4 separate regions of the Homo sapiens genome follow, and all the other regions are reported to be linked to region 1. Evidence: microRNA targets listed by miRTarBase, many of them from high-throughput screens and not tested one by one. Region 1 holds a microRNA gene; each other region holds the end of a gene's coding sequence.

Region 1 (5,611 bases):
AGCAAGCCTCTCCACCTTTCTATAAAGATTTCCGTTTGATTACTTATACCTTTTTAATAGGTATAAGCAGTCAAGATGGTGCAAAAACCTGTTCCTTACACCCTTTTATGTCATGCTAATCTTACAACATTATCACTTTCTGTGGTTTTCTGGGTAACGTTTTCAGCTCCACTATGGATTAATTTTGCTCTTCTGGGCCACCTACCTGATGACCATTTATAACTTTGTGGAAAGGTACGTTCCACATGACCAAGTTTCAGAAGGATCTTGGAAATATAACTAGTTTCTAAACTGGGAGCTTCTTGTGTACTTTGACTTCTGCTATAAATAACACTATAGTAGACTCTGCTTTACCTTGGCCGCTTAACTTTGAGGATTAGTGGGACAGCATTTGACAGCCCGTGAATAAGTTAGTTAGCTAGTTATTGGACTATGAGACCTGAATATAGAAACTGAGACGTAAAGCAGCTACTGTATTTGGTTTTGTTTGCTTCCCCATGATCGAACTCAAGCCAGGGACTGCAGGGCCATTTTCCCTTCTTTCAGCTGGTGAAATCTGTGCTTTCTGTCTTATACACGTTCTTTTTCTTCTAGACCCTTGGCTTCTGCGTTCGAAGAGTCCTGTAGGTAACCCCCAGCTGATCCAGTTCAGTAGAGAAGTGATTGACTTGCTGAAAAGCCAGCCATCTTGTGTCATACCCATCAGTCATTTCATCCCATCCTATCACCATCATTTTGCAAAGCAGTGCCGAGTGTCAGACTACGGATACTCCAAGCTGATTGAGTTATTAGAAGCAGTGCCTCATGTATTGCAGGTAAGGCGTGTCACGGGATTACTTGTTTACAGGCAGGAATGTTCCTCCATGGCTTTGGCTGCCTCCATCAAAGAAACAGTTTAATTCCTAAGAAGTCAGTTCTGGGCAGAACATCCACTAAAAACTTTCTTCAGAGGGCAGGAATAACACACACAGGCGGCTTCTCAATTTTTCAGAACGCTGCTAGTTTCCAGTTTTAGAGGAACTCCTTGGAGGACTGAGGAGTATTTTCCCTCTAAGCTCTATAGACCTTCTTCATCCCAGCACAGCTTTCTCCAGAACTGTTCATGATTACAAGGAAGCTCCCATGAATAGCCACATACTTGTATGTTGGTGCCTATGTGAGAGTCAAGGGCTTAACCTTTCTTCTAAATTTAACTAGTTGGAGACAAGTTACTGGGCTAGAGTGTAGCACTGGATCCTATGAAGACTTTTACCAGTTAACTCACAGTGTTATAACAGCTTCCCACTCACTAAAAACGGCTTGAAAAACTTGTAGACCAATTTGTCTGGACAACCAATACAGTTTTCATTTCTGTACTCACGACTTTTCTTTTCAAAAGATTACACTTTTCATTTTTATACTCAACGACTGTTTGGGAGAAGGTGTGCCAGGCCAAAAACGATAAGAGTTTCAGAAGGCCTTGGACATTTGTTCCTTTTGACCAACTACATTTTGTTGATCGACATGTGTTTCAAATTGCACACATTCTACATAAAGGGAGTCATGCTCTGAGGCTAGTAACGAGAGGGTGAGCCAGCAGCAAGGAAGTCGCTGTCTGCTGAGGTCTTATGTGTATAAATAAACTATTTGCTTTGCAGATTCTTGGAATGGGCTCCAAACGTCTGCTGACCCTTACCCACAGGGCCCAGGTGAAGCGCTTTACTCAGGATTTACTAAAACTTCTCAAATCCCAGGCCAGCAAACAGGTCATTGTGAGAGAATTCTCACAGGCTTATCACTGGTGAGTTGATGAAAAGAACAGAAATGAAAGTAAATATTTTAGGACATTTTATCTTCTGCCAAACTCTAAATAGTTATCTAGTATTTCTATTAAGCATTCTTTTGGAAAACTTGTAGTAGTTTTTTGTTTTTTTTTTTTTTTTTTTGAGACGGAGTCTCGCTCTGTCGCCCAGTGGCACGATCTTGGCTCACTGCAAGCTCCGCCTCCCGGGTTTATGCCGTTGTCCTGCCTCAGCCTCCAGAGTAGCTGGGACTACAGGCGCCCGCCACCACACCCGGCTTATTTTTTCTATTTTTTAGTAGAGACGGGGTTTCACCATGTTAGCCAGGATGGTCGCGATCTCTTGACCTCGTGATCCGTCCACCTCGGCCTCCCAAAGTGCTGGGATTACAGGCGTGAGCCCCAGCGCCCGGCCGGAAAACTTGTAGTTCTTCTACCGATGATACTACTCATTCCGTATCCACTTCCGTTGTTAAAACCTAGGTGTTTCTCAAAGGACTGGGATGTCACTGAATATGGTGTTTGTGAGTTGATTGACATCGTATCAGAGATTCCAGACACAACCATCTGCTTGTCCCAACAAGATAATGAAATGGTGATTTGTATCCCCAAAAGAGGTATGTGACTTAACATTTGCTGGAAGGATATTGTCTATCTCCTGTTATTTTAACATAGTGTGGCATGGAAGATGTGGTTTTCCCTCCCTGTCCGTGCTTCCTGAAGATTCCACAGAAAGCACAGTGTGAAAACTGCTGCTCTTTGGATTCTGTGTTCTTCAAAGTAGGTGAAGCTGTTCTCAAGAACAAAAGCAGGCTGGCTTTTTAGAATTGACTCTAAGGGGAAAAAGGGGCATCATCAGCACTTTGCTCAAATGCCTTCTGCAGCCTGGCTGTGGCTACATGAGCCTTAGTCATCCAGTTGAGAATCTGTCACCGTGCCTGTTGGCTTTGCTCTTCTGTTGAACTCTGAGCTACTTTATTTACTGTGCACACTTGAGAAGGGAAGACAACTCGAATGTTTTTTTTTCTTTTGCCTTTCAAATTTTAATAGTTGAAGTCAGAACTGCACAGGTCCAGTTACGGGTAGAAAGTACAGTATTTGAGGGATGCGAAACTCATGGATACTGGGGGCCAATTTTTCGTGTCTGCAGTTTCCGCGGGGCAGACCGCAAGACTTGAGTAGGTGCGGATTTTGGTATCCAGGCAGGGTCCTGGACCCGATCCCTTGAGAACACCAAGGGGTGACTGTATGGTCGTATCCTCCTTCTATTATCTGGTTCTTAAACGGTGCTCCTGCAGAACATTGATGTCCATGAAATCATAGAATTCCAGGGCCCATTCTCACTTAAAAATTAATAGAAACAATCTCAGCTTAAGCTTTCCCTCCTGTTTATTTTTGTTCAACTTTTGAAGCCTGATTCTCTCTTCTGCTAGCAAGTTTTAACTGAAGATCAGATGAATAAACAAAAAAAGTGGGGATATTCAGAAGCGTGATTTCATGGGAATAATTTCTAGAGTACTTGCTTAAGTACAGGGACCTGGGTGTGTGTCATGTTAATAGATATGGGGCAGGGGCTAGAAAATTGTTTCTAGCTTATAAGATGACATTGTTTCTAGCTTATAAGATGAATATATATGAATTTCATAATATAATAATATCATAACTTCCTGGTGTTCTGCCCTGGAACATGTTTGAGAACCACTTGCAAAGAGGGAAGAGTATATGTGTTTGTTTTAGGTTGTGTGTGTTTGGAAGGCAAGGATGATATCGTTTATAAATTCCCAAAAGGATTTACTCTAGTGTGGATGTTGAACACAAATGGGTAGAAAAAAACTGTGATTTTATGTTTTTTGGTTTTTTTAAAAGAACGCACTCAGGATGAAATAGAAAGGACAAAACAGTTCTCCAAGGATGTCGTTGATTTGCTGCGTCACCAACCCCATTTCCGGATGCCCTTTAATAAATTTATCCCTTCTTACCATCACCACTTTGGCCGGCAGTGCAAACTTGCGTACTATGGGTTTACCAAACTACTTGAACTTTTTGAAGCCATACCTGATACTTTACAAGTGAGTGAAGAAATTCTAATTTTATAAAGTATTTTTCTGAACAACGTATAGGAAATACTTTTTCACGTTCCAGACCTGTTTTTCTGGGAAGTAGGGAGTTACGAAAGAGGATGAAAATCTAAGCTATTCCAGTCAGAGAAGCCATATTCCTGACTCATTAGTATTTTTAGATAAATATGGCTTTTTCCTTCAATAAAGGATTATTCAAACTTGTTTTGGGGGTAATTATTGAAAAAAAGATTCAGTAGGTTTTCTTTTTTTTGTTTGTTTGTTTTTGTTTTTTGAGACGGAGTTTCTTTCTTGTCGCCCAGGCTGGAGTGCAATGGCGCAATCTTGGCTCACTGCAACCTCCGCCTGCGGGTTCAAGCAGTTCACTTGCCTCAACCTCCCGAGTAGCTGGGGATTACAGGTGCCCGCCACCATGCCCAGCTAATTTTTCTATTTTTAGTAGAGATGGTGTTTCACCACGTTGGCCAGGCTGGTCTTGAGCTCCTGACCTCAGTTGATCCGCCTGTCTCAGCCTCCCAGAGTGCTGGGATTACAGGCGTGAGCCACCACACCTGCTGATTTCTTACACTGAATATTTGTTCATTACTTTTATACTTTTAAAATCCTTCGTGTTGAAGGTAGGTCTGAGTACATGAGGTAACATCAGTGCTAAGCTGTTCGCTGTTGCTAAGTTAAACCAAATTTCTGTTGTTGATTTTATTTTCTTTTTTTACTACTGAAGTGCTTTTTAAAAATTGTTTTATTGTGGCACAATACACATAACATAGAACTTACCTTCGTAACTATCTTTATATCTCCTGTCCAGTAGTGGTCAGCACATTCACATTGTTATGCAACCGATCTTCTGAACTTTTTCATCTTACACAACTGAAACTTTATACCCATTCAGTAACGCTGACTTGTTTTTTCATTACTAGCTGCATACTTTTTTTGCTATTCTGTAAACACCCGTGATTTGTTTATTTTCCCTTTCCTCCCCCCGTGTGTTTTCAAAGGTATTGGAATGTGGAGAAGAAAAGATCCTTACTCTGACAGAGGTGGAGCGGTTCAAAGCTCTAGCTGCCCAGTTTGTTAAACTCCTTCGGTCCCAAAAAGATAACTGCCTTATGATGACAGATCTCCTTACAGAATATGCTAAAACTTTTGGTTATACATTTCGTCTCCAAGACTATGATGTCAGTTCCATTTCGGCTTTAACTCAGAAACTCTGCCATGTCGTGAAGGTAAATGTTTTTTTTTTTTTTTTTTTTTTTCCCTCATGGGATAAAACTCACAGTGACCTAATTCTCATTAGGACGTTTGCGTGTGCTGTAGCGTTTCTTTATTTACACCTTGAACTACTTAACTGTCACAGCATTATGACTCGTTTTGTGTCATTAGTGCTTATTAGGTAATAGAAGCCTTGGTTTGGAAGTTGAGAGTTTTGGTCTTCCTCTTGTGTGTTTCTGAATGGCCTTGCCAAAGCAATGCCTTTGTGAACTGATGAGGTCACTCTTCACCCCAGGGTTCGGTCATGAGGTGCAGCTGCCTCAGCACTGCTGGCCTGAGCTTGACTCCTTCCAGTGTGAGTTTTGCCTGTGACGTTCTTGGGAGCCCGTAATCACACAGTGTCCTCTCCCTCCACATTCTCACCCACTTAGGAGTAGGCTTAGGAGCAAGCGAGGGTGCAGAGTGGCCTTTGTCACTGGCAGAGCTGTAGTAGAGAGGGCAGCTCGTGCTGTTTGCTGTCCTGGACTGCACTTGACCCTTCCTG
Region 2 (5,467 bases), not on the chromosome of region 1:
CGGCGCACCCTAGAGCGCTACCTGGAGGCCCACTTCGGTGGGGCAGATGCAGCCCGCCGTTACGCCTGCCTGGTGACACTGCACCGGGTGGTCAACGAGAGCACCGTGTGCCTCATGAACCACGAGCGCCGCCAGACGCTGGACCTCATTGCCGCACTGGCGCTGCAGGCACTGGCTGAGCAGGGCCCAGCTGCCACTGCCGCCCTGGCCTGGCGCCCTCCAGGCACTGACGGGGTTGTGCCAGCCACTGTCAATTACTACGTGACCCCCGTGCAACCTCTCCTGGCTCACGCCTATCCCACCTGGCTGCCTTGTAACTGACTCAGACCCTGGCCAGAAGGGAAGGGACTGGGCCTCACGGGGTGGGGTGGGGCCTCCAAGAGTGTGTGGAGGACATGACCAGAGGCGCAGAATGTGCCAGGAGGCCCAGCACTGCAGGGTTGGGCCTTTGATTGAACAGACCAGACTTTCCCGAGCACGAGGCCCCTGTGGGCTTAATGCCAGCCTGGGGCTCTCAGCAGGAGGACCCTTTGGTTATTGCATCACACTTTTGGACCAGCATGCCGGTGGGGTGCAGGCGCCATTTGTCTTGGAAGTCAATTTCCTTCAGGAGACAAAGCAAGTTTGGGGTGGTAGCCTTAATGCCCAGCACCTTGGATTGATTCCCATGGTCTAAGAGGGTCTTTTTGACTAAGGCCAGCCTGTGGTGATCCCAGCAGCTTTGGAGGGCCTGCAGCCCACACACTGACTGATACATGGTATGTTACAGGGACTTGTCACTTTGGATCAGGCTGGGCCACTACAGGGCCTGATGGGCCAACTTGGGTAATCACTGGGAGGAGGGAAACTGAGGCCCGAGGCAGATACCTGGGTTTGGGGAGGGCTGGGTTTAGCCCGGTTCTCTGAACTACATACCCCCAGCTGTGAAGCCTTCCTCTTGAGGGGTTGAGGTGGGCAGTATACAGGAGCCAAGCAGCCCAGGGTGGGTCGCAGCCCAGGCCCCTTCCAGGGTGCCACTCCTTTCCCCCTTGTGTTGCAAGGAGCCCTCCTGCCTGGGAGCTTGTTCTTTGGAAGGTGCTGAGCCTGAATTTGCCACAGTCAAGTCAACGTTCCCACCCCACTGGCTTGGTTACAGGGCTCTCACATGGGGTAGGGGAGCCATACTCCCACCCCCTTGCGTATTCCCCTGGGTTTGTTGATATTTTGCACTCTTAACACCTGCCAATAAAGACGGTCTACACTGAACCTTAGTGCCATGCTTCCTCTGGGGAAAGAAGGACCTTCCGTAGCAGTGGGGGTTGCAGCTGCCTCCCCCAGTTGGAGTCTGGCTTGTACTGTGGAAGGGAGCATTTGCGGGGGCGGGGTTTGAAGCCTGGGCTATGGCTGGGGGACTGCCCCTCCTTCTCCCAACCCCAGCCGCAGCCTGACCAGCTGTATATTAAGAGCTGCTGTCTACATGTGTGACCTGCACGTTGCCTTAGCAGGTCTAGGGCTCTTGTTAAGGAGTAAATATTTTTATGTTTTCTACCTGGAATCCAAATAGCTCTGGGCCTAGACTCAGACTCTGGTGCTCAGGGGTACTTGTTCCCAGCTCTGTCTACCCCGTCTCTTCCAAGGGAGCAGCTAGAGAACAGGCTGGGTGAATCTGGACTGGAGGCCCCTCCAGTAAAGGTGGCTGAGACTGGGGAACTTGTAGGGTTCCCCCTAAGCCTGAGCCCAGGTAGGGCCTCTATTTGGGAGAGGCTCCCTCAGTCCTCCAGCTCCTTCCCTTGCCCCGAGCACTGATGGGTGTGCTCTGGCTCGCTCTAATCAGATCCCCTGGATGGGGAGGGTCTCCCCTTCCCAAACCCACATGGGGCCATGCCAGGCTGTCTAGGAGTGTCAGCCGCAAGTTCCTAGCATGCTGCGCCCTCAGAGTATCAGCCAGTCAGTCATGGGCCTGGACGCTGCCTGCTGTTTGCCCAGACTCTTTGATCCAGGGATTGCAAAGCCCTTAACATATTCAGCCTCATTAGGGGCCTCTGAAGTGGTGACTTTGATGGTTCTGGCCAGGGTGGAAAAAACAATGCTGCAGAGGAGGCCCCAGGTCACCAGGGTGAGTCCAGCCACCTCACCTGCTCTGAGTCCCTTGTGCTGCTGGGCTCAAAATGGCTGGAAAGTGAACAGAAAGGCTTTCTTTGCTTGGTGACTAAAACCAGCTCCCACCCCCATCCCAGCTGTGACCACCCAACTATGGTCATGGGAAGGACTAAGTTTGTCTCACCTCCTGAGTTGGCTATTTCAGCCTTGGCATGAGAGGCTCACAGTGTAAACACAACAGACTTACCTTTTTGGGCTGGGGGGTGGAGTTCACCTGGATGTGCTTGTTTAGTTAAGGGCTGAAAAAGCGAGAAACCCATTTGGTACATGTGTGTATACACTGCATTCAGCCACCATGTGCCAGACACCGTTCTGGGTGCTGGGAATACATCAGCAAACAAAAGACAAAATCCCTGTCCTTGTGAAGACTACATTCTAACGGAGTAGATAGAAAATAAACCGAACCGTATGGTCTTAGATGATCAGTGATATGTAAAAATATAGCAGGGTAAGGGACTGGAAATGCTGGGTTTTGAAAATTGAAAAATAAGTCAGGAGCCTGGCGCAGTGGCTCATGCCTGTAATCCCAGCACTTTGGGAGGCTGAGGTGGGCAGATCACTTGAGGTCAGTAGTTCAAAATCAACCTGGCCAACATGGTGAAACCCCATCTCTACTAAAAATACAAAAATTAGCTGGGTATGGTGGCGTGTGCCTGTAATTCCAGCTGGTCGGGAGGCTGAGGCAGGAGAATCGCTTGAACCTGGGAGGCAGAGGTTGCAGTGAGCTGAGATCATACCACTGCACTCCAGCCTGGACAACAGAGCGAGACTCCATCTCAAAAAAAAAAAAAAAAAAAAGTCAGGTGCAACTCATTGAAAGGTGATATTTGATTGAACAAAGACATAAAGGTGGTGGGAGGTGGGCATGAAGATGTTTAGAGAAAGAGCATTCCAGGCAGAGAGCTTGCCTGTGAATGTGCATGCACTGTGGCACATGTACCTGAGGGTGTCTGGCAGGCCTCGTCCAGGTGCTGGTACTGCACACACGCATGGGCCTGAGGCAGTGGGGGCGTGTGAGACAGTTATTCACAGTAGCAGCCACCATTCCTGGTGGGCTTCACTCCAGCAGGCACTATGCTGAGGTCTTCCCAATCATGATCTCCCAAATCATCCTTGCAACAACTCCACAAGGGGAAAGAAAGCATTTCCATTTGGCAGACAGAAACTGAGACCAGAGAGGTCAAAGAGGTTTGTCTGGATCCAGAGCCATTGCTGTTAACCTCTGTTCCATCCTGCTCCTGCACTGTGATTTCACATGATTGTGACAGTTGTCTCCTGTACGTATGTGACAAGGCATAATTTGACATTACTGTGACATTTGTCATTTTATATGTGACTATGGCACAGTGTAGCAGTGTGGCAAGATGTACATTTTTTTTTTCTTTTTCTGAGACGGAGTCTCGCTCTGTCGCCCAGGCTGGAGTGCAGCGGTGCGATCTCAGCTCACTGTAACCTCTGCCTCCCGTGTTCAAGCGATTCTCCTGCCTCAGCCTCCTGAGTAGCTGGGATTACAGGCACCCACCACCATGCCCAGCTAATTTTTGTATTTTTAGTAGAGACGGGGTTTCACCATGTTGGTCAGGCTGGTCTCGAACTCTTGACCTCGTGATCTGCCCACCTCGGCCTCCCAAAGTGCTGGGATTACAGGCGTGAGCCACCACACCTGGCCAAGATGTATGTTTTCTTGATATACATGTGACAGTAATTATGGCTTGTGATGACTGTCCAGGGCTCATGATGGCAGCAGCACGCCTGTGGTTTTGTTTGGGAGTGGTGCAGCGTTTCTGAGTGTGAGAAAAACACCGACTCAGTGGCTGACATGGTTCCTCCTGTGGACAGTTCCTGCAGCTACCTAAGACACCAGGACAGGCAGGAATCAGGAACTGGGACTCAGAGCCAGCAATGCAAAGGCTGAGAGGGAAAAGCCCTGTCCTCTACCTTCCAACCTTACTGTGCTCTCCAAGCAACAGTCCACCCACCCCTTCAGACCCGAGGGTTGTGGGAGCTCCGGATGGGGAAGGAGCGTTGCTGTGGACTTTGAGGAACAAGGCATAGCCTCAGACAGTTACATGATATGCTGCCCTTCCGCTTTCACTCGCCACACTTCTGCTCTGTTCCCTGGGGGCTGGCATCTGTGGACTGCATCAATGGCTCCCTTGTTCCCCGGCTTCCTGTTGGGTTGCCAATGAGACATCCCAGCGTCTTAAGGAGACTTAAGGGAGGAGTAGATATTTATTCTCTTTGTTCCCTCTCTACCAGGTTGCCATGGTTGGCCACATCTCTCAACCAAAGGTCACGGTTCTTGTCAGGGGCCCCACTCCACACAGTGACCTCTCCTCACCCTCAGACTCAGGAGTTGCAAAGGCTTCTCACTGTTGCTGGCCCCAGATTGCTGAACCATCCCATTACATTTTTTTTTTTGGGTGGAGGGGGGAGAGCACTCACCCAGGCTGGCATGCAGTGACGCGATCTCAGCTCACTGCAACCTCCGCCTCCCAGGTTCAAGCCACTCTCATGCCTCAGCCTCCCAAGGAGCTTGGACTACAGGTGCACACAACAACGCCTGGCTAATTTTTGTATTTTTAATAGGATGGGGTTTCGCCATGTTGGCCACACTGGTCTCAAACTCCTGACCTCAGGTGATCTGCCTGCCTCGGCCTCCCAAAGTACTGGGATTACAAATGTGAGCCACCAAACCCAGCCCCTTGTTAGTTTCTTAAGCCCAGCCCACGCCTTTGGAAATAGTCTGTTTTATTTCTTGAGATAGGGTCTTGTTCTGTTGCCCAGGCTGGAGCGCACAGTGGTAGGATCACAGCTCAGTGCAGCCTTGACCTCCTGGGCTCAAGCAATCCTCCCACCTCAGCCTCCTAAGTAGCTGGTACCACAGGCATGTGCCACCCCACCTGGCTAATTTTTTCATTTTTATAGAGCAGGGATCTCCCAGGCTGGTCTCGAACTCCTGAGCTCAAGCAACCCTCCTGCCTCAGCCTCCCAAAGTGCTGGGATTACAGGTGTGATCCACCATGCCAGGCCAGAATAGCCTATGTTTAAAACACTTCCCAGTTTGAGTGTGCCATCTCCTGCTTAGACACCGACTGACAAAACAGGTCCATATGGTCGCCAGCACAGTCACACTAGTCACACAACCCCCACAGGCCATGGTGCTGCCATGTTGTCACCAGTTCGCACAACCCTCCTTGGTGTCACACAGTCTCACATGTGCATTCTCATCCCTGAGCTCCGTCATCACATCCTTTAATGAGGAAGACTTCCTGAGGAGGGGGGTAAGAGCAGGCGGCTGTGAGTCAGGTCAAGGGAGAATTGGTCT
Region 3 (4,000 bases), not on the chromosome of region 1:
AAAGCCCCACCCAGTCCAGTCACGTAGGCTACACCCCCTCCGGGGCTCCGGCCCCGGTACCCAGGCTTTCCTCCGCTTTGGTTCTGTCTCCAGCTCTGGTCACCTCCTGCCCGGGCACCTCCCTCCGAGGCCCCGCCTCCCGCCCAGACACCTCCCTCCGAGACCCCGCCTTCCGTCTGGGCACCTCCCTCCAAGACCCCGCCTCCCGCCCGGGCACCTCCCTCCCAGTCCCCCGCCTTCCGCCCGAGCACCTCCCTCCGAAGCCCCGCCTCCCACGGCCCGGTTGGCCCCGCCCTCCCGCAGGTCCTGTGGCGCGGGAAGGTGCTGCAACCTCCGAAAGGGGACGTGGCGGCCGAGTGTGTGCGAAACCTAAACGAACGCATCCGGCGGGACGTCAGGGTCTACATCAGCCTCCTGCCCCTGGGCGATGGACTCACCTTGGCCTTCAAGATCTAGGGCTGGCCCCTAGTGAGTGGGCTCGAGGGAGGGTTGCCTGGGAACCCCAGGAATTGACCCTGAGTTTTAAATTCGAAAATAAAGTGGGGCTGGGACACACGACCTCCTGAGCCTCCGTGTGTGGCGCTGGATGGGGAAGGGAGGGAAGGCCCAGCACAGACAGCTCCTGCCTTCAGTGAAAGGGGCCTTGAGATTCGTCCCCTCCCTGGCGCCAGGTCTGTGGCCCAACTGCAGGAACCTCCAGCTGGCAGGAGGCAGGTTATAAAGTTTTAACTGGCCTGGCCACGTGTAATGGCCAGAGACCCCAGCACCTCGGGCTTGTCTGCCTCCTACATCTCTCCCTCAGGGCAGGCGAAGCTCTGGTTCTGAGCAGCTGGGACTGGTAGAGAGCCACGTCTGGTGTCTGACAACATGAAAGAGGATTGCAGGGGACCACGGGTGTCACTTGTGTGCTTTTGTAGGTGATGCCAGTTCTGCTGGCGGCTTGCTCATGTCTTCACAGCACAGTCAGCTCCCCAGCCTCACCTCTCCAGTGGAGGCCCTGGTGGGGGAACATCACCTCTAAGAGCCAGGCCAGTTGGCCTGGACCTGAGGACCTCGGGGTTGACTTGAGTATCCTGCCGTGGGGTTGACTTGAGTATCCTGCCGTCTCCTTGAAATTCTTAAGTGAGGGGGATCACTGGCCAGGGAGGCGTGAAGCAGACAAGCCTATAGGTACAGCAGTTGTTACTACACTCCCTAGAGGATGAAGAGAACTTCAGGCTTTCCTGAACCATCTGCCTATGAGGGGAGGTGGAGAAGGAACCAGGCCTCATGGAGCACCTTCGACCCAGGTGCTCTGCTTATTTAAATCTCCCCAACCTCACAGATCTTATCTCCACTGGCAGATGGTCAAATTCTTTCCACTGACACTGCCTCAGGCATAAGTGGCATTAGCCTGGAATTCAAGCAGCTTTTGCCACTACCTGGTAAGCCTCGGTGGTGGGAAGTGTCCCTGGAGACTGATGGAAGCAGAGCTAAAAGAGCCACATGAGGCTGGGCACAGTGGCTCACGCCTGTAATCCCAGCACTTTGGGAGGCTGAGGCAGGTGGATCATTTGAGGTCAGGAGTTCGAGACCAGCCTGGTCAACATGGTGAAATCCGGTCGCTACTAAAAATACAGAAATTAGACAGGTGTGGTGATACACGCTTGTAATCCCAGCTACTCGGGAGGCTGAGGCAGAATTGCTTGAACCCGGGAGACGGAGGTTGCAGTGAGCCGAGACCGCACCACTGCACTCCAGCCTGAGCAACGAAGTGAGACTCCGTCTCAAAAAAAAAAAAAAAAAAAAGCCACACGAGCTCACAGCTCCTGGGACAAACTTTGCATTTTGGACACTACGCAAGACCACGGCTGGAAACCTACCCTTTTCTAACTCATAAAAGCATATTAGGATGCATGTGGGTGAATAGGTTCAATTTACTCTAAGGAAATCCTTGACAAAACAGTTAACTCACTCGTGCCACACCTCAGTCCAAATTACTGTAGCCACTGCCCAATAAAGGGCCACCCATTAGCTAAGGGGCAGCAGTCCCCATGACTAGGGTTTTTCTCTTTGAAGGACCACCAGCAGTGGTTAGTTGCCTGCGGGTCTACTTCACACTGCTGGAGTTGCTTTCAGGCCTAGCCTGCATGGACATCTTTTCATGTTTCTCCTCTTACCTGACTCAAGCTGGCTCAAATTCTAACCCTCTGTCACTTAAGTCATGTCTGTCTGGAGAGGGCCTTCCAGAGAACCATGATTCACATGGGCCATTCAAGCCAGTCCCCTAGGAATAGTGGGACCAGAGGGGTCTTCATGCCCCCAACCCTCCTGTGTGGAGAGCTTGCTTGAGCTCTGGTCTCTCACCAGCTTCTTCTCAACCTGGAAGTTTGTAGCATGTATCATTTCTTGGGTGATAAGTCCTTCCATTTTCTTACCCATTTCTTATCACTCAGGTTCTACCATTCTTCAGGTCTATTACAGATTTGTTGAACAAATCTTCTCCAACCTTTAATCATATCCAATTATCTTCTCCCATCAGAAAACGTACTCTTACCTACTTTTCCAGCCAGAACCACCTATTAATGTCTCATTCATGCCCAGATGAAGGCCAATGCCACGCAGCCTAAAGGGGTTGTCTCTGGTCTCCTACCTATACCCACCTTTCAGTGTGTCTGCCTAGAAGGAAATGAGTAATGACCTCTCACAGTCCCTCAGGTTACCCTCACTGTCTACACCTTACTCCTCTTCTGTATGCTTAACACCATCTCACCAAACCAGGGCCTACTTTATGTTCCTAGCAGTAGCTCACAGGGGTATGGTGTGTTTGTGTAACTTTTCAGCACCTTCTCTTTTTCCTTTCAATGATGCAGGGCAATTCTGCACAGACTTACAAACTGTGCATGTAAAAGTGTAAAAGCATGTATCCTCTTATTGTAGTCTTAAAAAGCTCGTGGAATCTAGGGACACAGAAGATTCTGTGGCACAGATTTAGGTACAGAGCAAAATACTCACTGGAAAAATCAAGTATTGGCTAGCTACCACGGGGATTTGATCCTAGCTGGCAAACGTGGAACTCCGCAAATACTTGGAGCCATTAATTATGTATACTTGTTTTATTCATAATTTGTCATGTTCTGGGATACCAAAAGTAATAATGGCTGAACTTAACAAAATTTGTAACCTCATCTTAATATCCACTGATCCATCTCATTCAATGGTAACAGTCAATGTTTTCTAAAGGAACATAAAAACAAACATGCACACAATTGCACAGTTTTCATAAAGGTCTATTTCATTATTGGTGGGTAGCGCATTTAACAGTTAAATACATTTAAATAATGTATAGGTGACTGCAGGACTGCAGCATTGGTAACTAGATAACCAACTAGAAACCAGCTAACAAAGAACTGTCTAAATACTTAAAATACAGCTCTTGTTGAGATCATCCTTTGTTTTGATCATCTTCTTGGGGGAAAAAAGCCTGCTGCTGGTCACAATGGAAATATATTAAGGCCAAATCTTCTGATATCCATTCCCAAAGGTTTCTTTCAGCTGGATTAAGCCTCCAACTCCAGGGCGAGCCCAACCTTGTGGCCTCCAGCATTAATGCTCTTCCCATCTACCAGAGCAGAGAGTGTAAGCTTCACACCTATTAAGACAAAAAAACACAAAAACAAAAAACCGTGATGTACCTGGCACGTCACTCAGTCTGGGCCTTCTTTCACAGTCATCCCCAGAGCCTGCCTGTCACTTCCTCAGCCTGTCAGCTGACCTACTAGTGCTGGCCACCAGAGGGCGCTTGGAAGTATCTGAGACACCAGAAGAACTGGGTTACCATTCTAGCTAAGGCACCAAGTCACAGAGAAATGTTTTAATAACAACTTCAAAGTGTTCTAGAATATACTATAATGTTGAGTATACTATCCCGATGAAAAGAGACTAAAGACATAATCATAATTCGATCCTAGAAAGGAAAACCTACAATAAAGACACATTTGGGAACGGGGGTAAATCTGAA
Region 4 (5,611 bases), not on the chromosome of region 1:
ATAATAAGCATGTTTTAACAATTAAAAACACAAAAGAAGGAATTGTAAGAAGCAATAGATGAATGGATGAATGGATAGGTGGATAAATGGATGGATGGATGGATGAGTGGATGGATGGAAGGATGTTTGGATGATGGGTGGATAGATAGATGAATGAATGAGTGGAGGGATGGGAGGATAGATGGATGATAGGTGGATGGATGGATGGATAAATGGATGGATGGATGGATGGGTGAAGGTTGACTGTGTGGATGGATGAGTGGATGAATGGATGGGTGGAGGGATGGAAAGATGGACTGATGGAGAGATGGATGGGTAGGCATATGGATGGGTAAATGGTAGATGAATGGTTGGTTGGATGAATGGTTGGGTAGATGAATGGGTGGGTGGATGGATGGATGGGTAGATGGATGGGTGAGTGGGTGGGTGGGTGGATGAGTGAGTGACTGGATGGGTGGGCAGATGGATGAATGGATGGGTGGGTGGGTGGATGGATGGATGGATGGATGGATAGATAGGTGGATGGATGGGTGCATGGATGGGTGGATGGCTAGATGTGTGGGTGGTTGTATGGTTGGTTGGATGCATGGATGGATGGCTAGATGGATGAGTGGGTGGGTGGATGGATGGATGGATGGATGGATGGATGGATGGACAGATGGATGAGTGGGTGGATGGATGGGTGGGCAGATGGATCAATGGATAGGTGGGTGGATGGATGGATGGATGGTTGAATAGATGGATGAGTGGAGGGATGGATGGATGAATGGATGGATGTGTGGGTGGGTGGATGGGTGGATGGACGGATGAGTGAGTGGCTGGATGGGTGGGCAGAGGGATGAATGGATCCCTCCATTGAGTGAATGGATGGGTGAGTGAGTGTGTGGATGGATGGATGGATGGATGGATGGATGGATGGATGGGTGGATGGATAGATGTGTGGGTGGTTGTATGGTTGGTTAGTTGGGGGGTGGGTTGAAGCCTCCCTCCAGGCTGATTGAGGTTGCCAGTCTCCAGGGCCTGTTCTGCTGAGGCACCAGGAAGGAGGCCCTCAGAGCCACACTTAGAAAGTGGGTGGCAGGAGCCGGGCCCTGAAGGGCATGTGCCACTCTTGCTGCTGGGAGTTCACCCACGCTGGGTGGGATCATTGTTTTGGATTACATACATGTAGAAGCGCATTTTGCACTTTTAACATTAACAGCAATAACTTGGCCTGTGTCTTTCCCTCCCTAGCATGTCCTGAGGCGACGTGAGCATAACAAAGGACATGGAAGAAGATTCCAGATGCCAGAAAACCTCTGTCAGACGCCCACTGGCCCCAGATCTCATCCTGCCTCATCCTGAGTCCCAATCTTCCAAGGGTGCCAGCCCCTCCGTTCATCTCTGAAACCCAGCATCCTTTTCAGCTGCTTGAAAACATTGTATTTTTTTTTTTTAACGATGCAGTATTTGTGCGTTCCAGAAAAGGGCCCAGCTCTGAGCCCCTCACCCTTCCACACTCACGAACTCTCAGCCGAGGAAGGCAAGAAGCGCAGGGGGTGGCCCGCGTGGCGTCGGTGGCCTCCGCTCCTGCTCGCAGCCTCTGTGGTCAGAGCTGGATACAAGATTCAAGACCCTTCTCTTGCTTGTCACCCGCTCCAGGTTGGAGCCACAGACACCCACCGCCACCCCGGCTGGGTCTGCGTCCTTTCCTGTGCCTTTCCCTCCAGAATGCGGCCTCAGACCTAGAAGCTCAACCCCCCTATGAGGGCCACGTCCTGGGGTAGCTCCTGACCTCCGACCTTATGTCCAAATTTCACACCCATGGTTTTTCATTTGACCCGCCCCCTTCTCGCTCATAATGACACCCAGCTCCTTTGAGAGGATCAGAGCCCATTGCACAAGAAGAGCCGCTGCCAACCATCCTTGTCCTCCGATTGCAAAATGACACCCCAGTAATCTAGAACATTCTCAAGCCCCTTTAACTCAGATGTCAAGCCACCGGGCAAACCCCGTCAATACCTCCCACCAAGGAATGAGATATGTGGACCTCACTGCTCCCCCAACCCAGCGTCAGGCTGGGACACGCCAACGCTGTTCCGGGTTGGAACAGCAGAGGCTCAGAAACTGGCTCTGAAATAGGCAGACCTAGCAAGAGGAAGATACAGGGTATCGGGCGTTTGAGTGTTTCAGAAGTCATTCGGGAAGATAAATCCAGTGCGCTGGCCGCAGCCACCTGCATTCAAAGCTTGGACCAGCGGGTTCTTGTTCGGGAGGCAAATTTCCCTAGGAAAAAGAAGACAGACTTTTCTAATGTGGTCCAAATGCGGATCACTGGTCAGATGGACTCTAGAAGCACTGAGCTCCCTGTCTCTGGAAGTATTTAAGAAAAGGCTGGGCCAGGCACGATGGCTCACGCCTGTAATCCCAGACTTTGGGAGGCCGAGGCAGGCGGATCACCTGAGGTGAGGAGTTTGAGAACAGCCTGGCCAACATGGTGAAACCTCATCTCTACTAAAAATACAAAAATTAGCCAGGCGTGGTGGCAGGTGCCTGTAATCCCAGCTACTTGGGAGGCTGAGGCATGAGAATCACTTAAACCTGAGAGGCAGAGGTTACAGTGAGCCAAGATCGTGCCACTGCATTCCAGCCTGGGCGACAGAGCAAGACTCTGTCTCAAAAAAAATAAAAAATAATCAGGGCACAGTGGCTCATGCCTGTAATCCCAGCACTCTGGGAGGCTGAGGTGGGTGGATCACCTGAGGTCAGGAGTTCAAGACCAGCCTGGTGAACATGGCGAAACCCCGTCTCTAATAAAAATACAAAAATTAGCCGGGCATGGTGGTGCATGCCTGTAATCCCAGCTACTCGGGAGGCTGAGGCAGGAGAACTGCTTGAACCCAGGAGGCAGAGGTTGCAGTGATCCAAGATCATGCCACTGCACTCCAGCCTGGGCAACAAGAGCAAAACTCCGTCTCAAAATAAAAAGAAAAGAAAAGAATGGACAGTGTTTGCAGAGAGTTGCTCACGAGTTTCCCTCTAATCCTAAATGTCTTCATGTCTATCAGTCTGAGCAGACGGTGAGTAGGGCGGGCACATTCTCCAGGCCCTTCTTCCTAGCTCTGTGGTTGACCTCTCAGCAAGTGCTATCCAGGCTGGGCCAACCAGACCCACAATTAACTGAGCCTCAGTGAAAGCGTCCAGTGCATCTTGACCTGAGACAGCAAGGAATTGCATTTGGGGTTATTCCAACGATGATGGCAGGGAACTGGTGGTATTTAGTGCTGAGGGGCAGTGATACAGAAAGATTTGCCCTGTGGGACAGGGTCCTGCGCGAGTCCCATCCCCAAAAGCCAGCAGCTCCTGCCATGAGGAAGACGGGGTTTCTGAGCAGGCTTATGCCTGCAGGTTCCTGTGGAGCCACCGGCTGTGACGGGACACCTCTGGGTCTCAGCATTGCCCTGGGGAGGCTGGGACATTTAGGGACATGGTAGGGTTTTAACATTTGTTTCCCAAATGTCAAATCCCGGGCACAGGGGCAAGACCCTGTCCCGAATTCCCACCCCAGTGAATGGTGTCGCTGCCAAAGCCAACACAAGATGACAAAAGTGGCTGGGTACGGTGGCTCACGCCTATAATCCCAGCACTTTGGGAGACCGAGACAGGTGGATCACCTGAGGTCAGGAGTTCGAGACCAGGCTGGCCAACATGGTGAAACCCCATCTCTACTAAAAATACAAAAATTAGCTGGGTGTGGTGGCGCGCACCTGTAGTCCCAGCTACTCAGGAGGCTGAGGTAGAAGAATAGCTGGAACCCAGGAGGCAGAGATTGCAGTCAGCCGAGATTGCACCACTGCACTCCAGCCTGGGAGACAGAGCAAGACTGACTCAAAAGAAAAAAAATGACAGAAGCCTGATTATCAGACTGCCCGGAGGAGACAGGCTCCAGCAGATAGATGCCAGCCAGGCCCAGCTGCCACGATTTGTCCCAGGTGACCAAAGGCACGCAGCTCCAGCATGAATCGTTCTAACCCAACAGTGACAAGAACTGCTGGGCCTTAACCGTCATGGAAGACTGGGGCCGCTTCCAAGTCACAGACAGGAGACGGGGACAGGAAAGAACTCATTCCACCCAATCGGACACCTAATAATTGAGTGTCTACAGCAGCAATCAAGTGACAAGTGAGGCCCTACCTGACCCAGAAGGTGCCTGCCGGCTAAACATTCTGCCCCCACCAGAAACTCCAGGGGGTCCGCCCGTTATGCCGTGGCCCACCCACGCCCCTTTGGATCACCAGCAGTCACAGACAACAGGCAGGCGAAACTGAAGACCCCAACTCAGCCCCAGCGGACCCTCCAGAGCAAAAGAGGCCCCCGGCGAGGCCACCTGTCGGCAGGCATGCCGAGGTCAAACAGCCGGGGCCACCGTTCCCAGCTGGGCCACGACCTGCACCGTCCACAGATGGGCTTTGAGATGGATTTGTATCAGGGTGGGGGGTGTGGTTTGGCCAAAATGCAATGGACCCCGACCCCTCCTCGTAAAAGGATGTTGGGTTTCCCTCTGGTGACACATGGGATGCGTCATAAACCCTCCCCCAAAGTCCTGGTCAGCAGCCCATCCTTCCAACGATGAGTTTTGCGGTTTTTCAGAACAGAAATGATCACTACGATTGACGACGGTCGTGATGTTAAGACGTCGTCTCCATGAGCTTTGGGGGGACTTTTATGTGGAATAAAGAAACTATCACTGAGAAGGGAGGTTTGTTCCTTTTGAGTACTAGTAACAGGCAGGGCCCAGTGGCTCACCCCTGCCATCCCAGCACTTTGGGATGCGGAGGCGGGAGGATCACCTGAGGTCAGGAGTTCCAGACCAACCTGGCCAACATGGTGAAACCCCGTCTCTACTAAAAATACAAAAATTAGCCGGGCGTGGTGGCACACGCCTGTAATCCCAGCTACTCAGGAGGCTGAGGCAGGAGAATCACTTGAACCCGGGAGGCAGAGGCTGCAGTGAGCCACGATCACGCCTGCCAGTTCTCTCCATCCACCCAGTGGGGACACTGTGCGGTGGCCATGTCATACCCACCTTGATGTCTCTGTCACCAGCAGGTCCCAAAGTCATGCTACTGTGCTCCAGTTGTGTTTATGCCGGCAGGTGCCCTTTAGGGGAAAAGGTGGGGTCTTCGTGGGTGGATGGAGGGGACAAAGAGGGTGGAGCTGGTGCTGGGATCCTGGGGAGCCGCTCCCAGTTTGGAGGTGACAGCCCCCTCCTTTATCCTACTGCACGGGGTCTCTGATTACCCTGAGAGGTTTCTTGAAAACCCCATTCACGGCCAGGCACGGTGGCTCACGCCTGTAATCCCAACACTTTGGAAGGCCGAGGCAGGTGAATCACTTGAGGTCAGGAGTTTGAGGCCAGCCTGGCCAACGTGGTGAAACCCCGTCTCTACTAAAAATACTAAAATTAGCCAGGCGTGGTGGTGCGCGCCTGTAATCCCAGCTACTCGGGAGGCTGAGCCAGGAGAATTACTTGAACCCAGGGGGCGTAGGTTGCACTGAGCCGAGATGGCGCCACTTCACTCCAGCCTGGGCAAAAGAGACTCCGAACCCCCCACCAAAAAAAAACAGAAAA

The links. Region 1 holds the annotated microRNA hsa-miR-6506-5p (ACUGGGAUGUCACUGAAUAUGGU, at 2,278-2,300, shown strand). A microRNA usually pairs through its seed, bases 2 to 8, with sites in the 3' UTR of a target mRNA and lowers its output. Matches are read on the target gene's strand: a 7mer-m8 pairs with bases 2 to 8, a 7mer-A1 pairs with bases 2 to 7 and ends in A, and an 8mer does both.
Region 2: the mRNA of TENT5B is a reported target of hsa-miR-6506-5p. Seed matches in the 3' UTR shown: 7mer-m8 at 710-716.
Region 3: the mRNA of VDAC2 is a reported target of hsa-miR-6506-5p. Seed matches in the 3' UTR shown: 8mer at 3,116-3,123.
Region 4: the mRNA of ATCAY is a reported target of hsa-miR-6506-5p. Seed matches in the 3' UTR shown: 8mer at 2,404-2,411, 7mer-m8 at 2,538-2,544, 7mer-m8 at 2,702-2,708, 7mer-m8 at 2,837-2,843 and 7mer-m8 at 3,617-3,623.

The regions. Positions count from the first base shown.
Region 1 is chr16:15,607,761-15,613,371 of GRCh38, reverse strand. It overlaps MIR6506 (microRNA 6506), which reads left to right and starts at 2,277; the gene lies at 2,277-2,342. MARF1 (meiosis regulator and mRNA stability factor 1) reads left to right here. Exons shown (of 27, transcript NM_014647.4): 17 at 595-815; 18 at 1,638-1,780; 19 at 2,264-2,397; 20 at 3,647-3,849; 21 at 4,854-5,081. RefSeq lists an enhancer at 2,606-2,900.
Region 2 is chr1:27,000,798-27,006,264 of GRCh38, reverse strand. It overlaps TENT5B (terminal nucleotidyltransferase 5B), which reads left to right. Exons shown (of 2, transcript NM_052943.4): 2 at 1-1,245. The coding sequence ends at 321. TRNP1 (TMF1 regulated nuclear protein 1) reads right to left here. Exons shown (of 2, transcript NM_001013642.3): 2 at 5,379-5,467. Among named protein-coding and RNA genes, the nearest start is that of TENT5B, 9.3 kb to the left of the region's middle. RefSeq lists enhancers at 1-505, 1,794-2,438, 3,989-4,148, 3,866-4,469.
Region 3 is chr10:75,230,529-75,234,528 of GRCh38, reverse strand. VDAC2 (voltage dependent anion channel 2) reads right to left here. Exons shown (of 10, transcript NM_001391963.1): 10 at 3,081-3,631. The coding sequence ends at 3,540. It overlaps COMTD1 (catechol-O-methyltransferase domain containing 1), which reads left to right. Exons shown (of 7, transcript NM_144589.4): 7 at 304-888. The coding sequence ends at 456. Among named protein-coding and RNA genes, the nearest start is that of COMTD1, 3.4 kb to the left of the region's middle. RefSeq lists a silencer at 164-343 and an enhancer at 474-623.
Region 4 is chr19:3,923,350-3,928,960 of GRCh38, forward strand. ATCAY (ATCAY kinesin light chain interacting caytaxin) reads left to right here. Exons shown (of 13, transcript NM_033064.5): 13 at 1,234-4,733. The coding sequence ends at 1,243. Among named protein-coding and RNA genes, the nearest start is that of NMRK2, 6.9 kb to the right of the region's middle.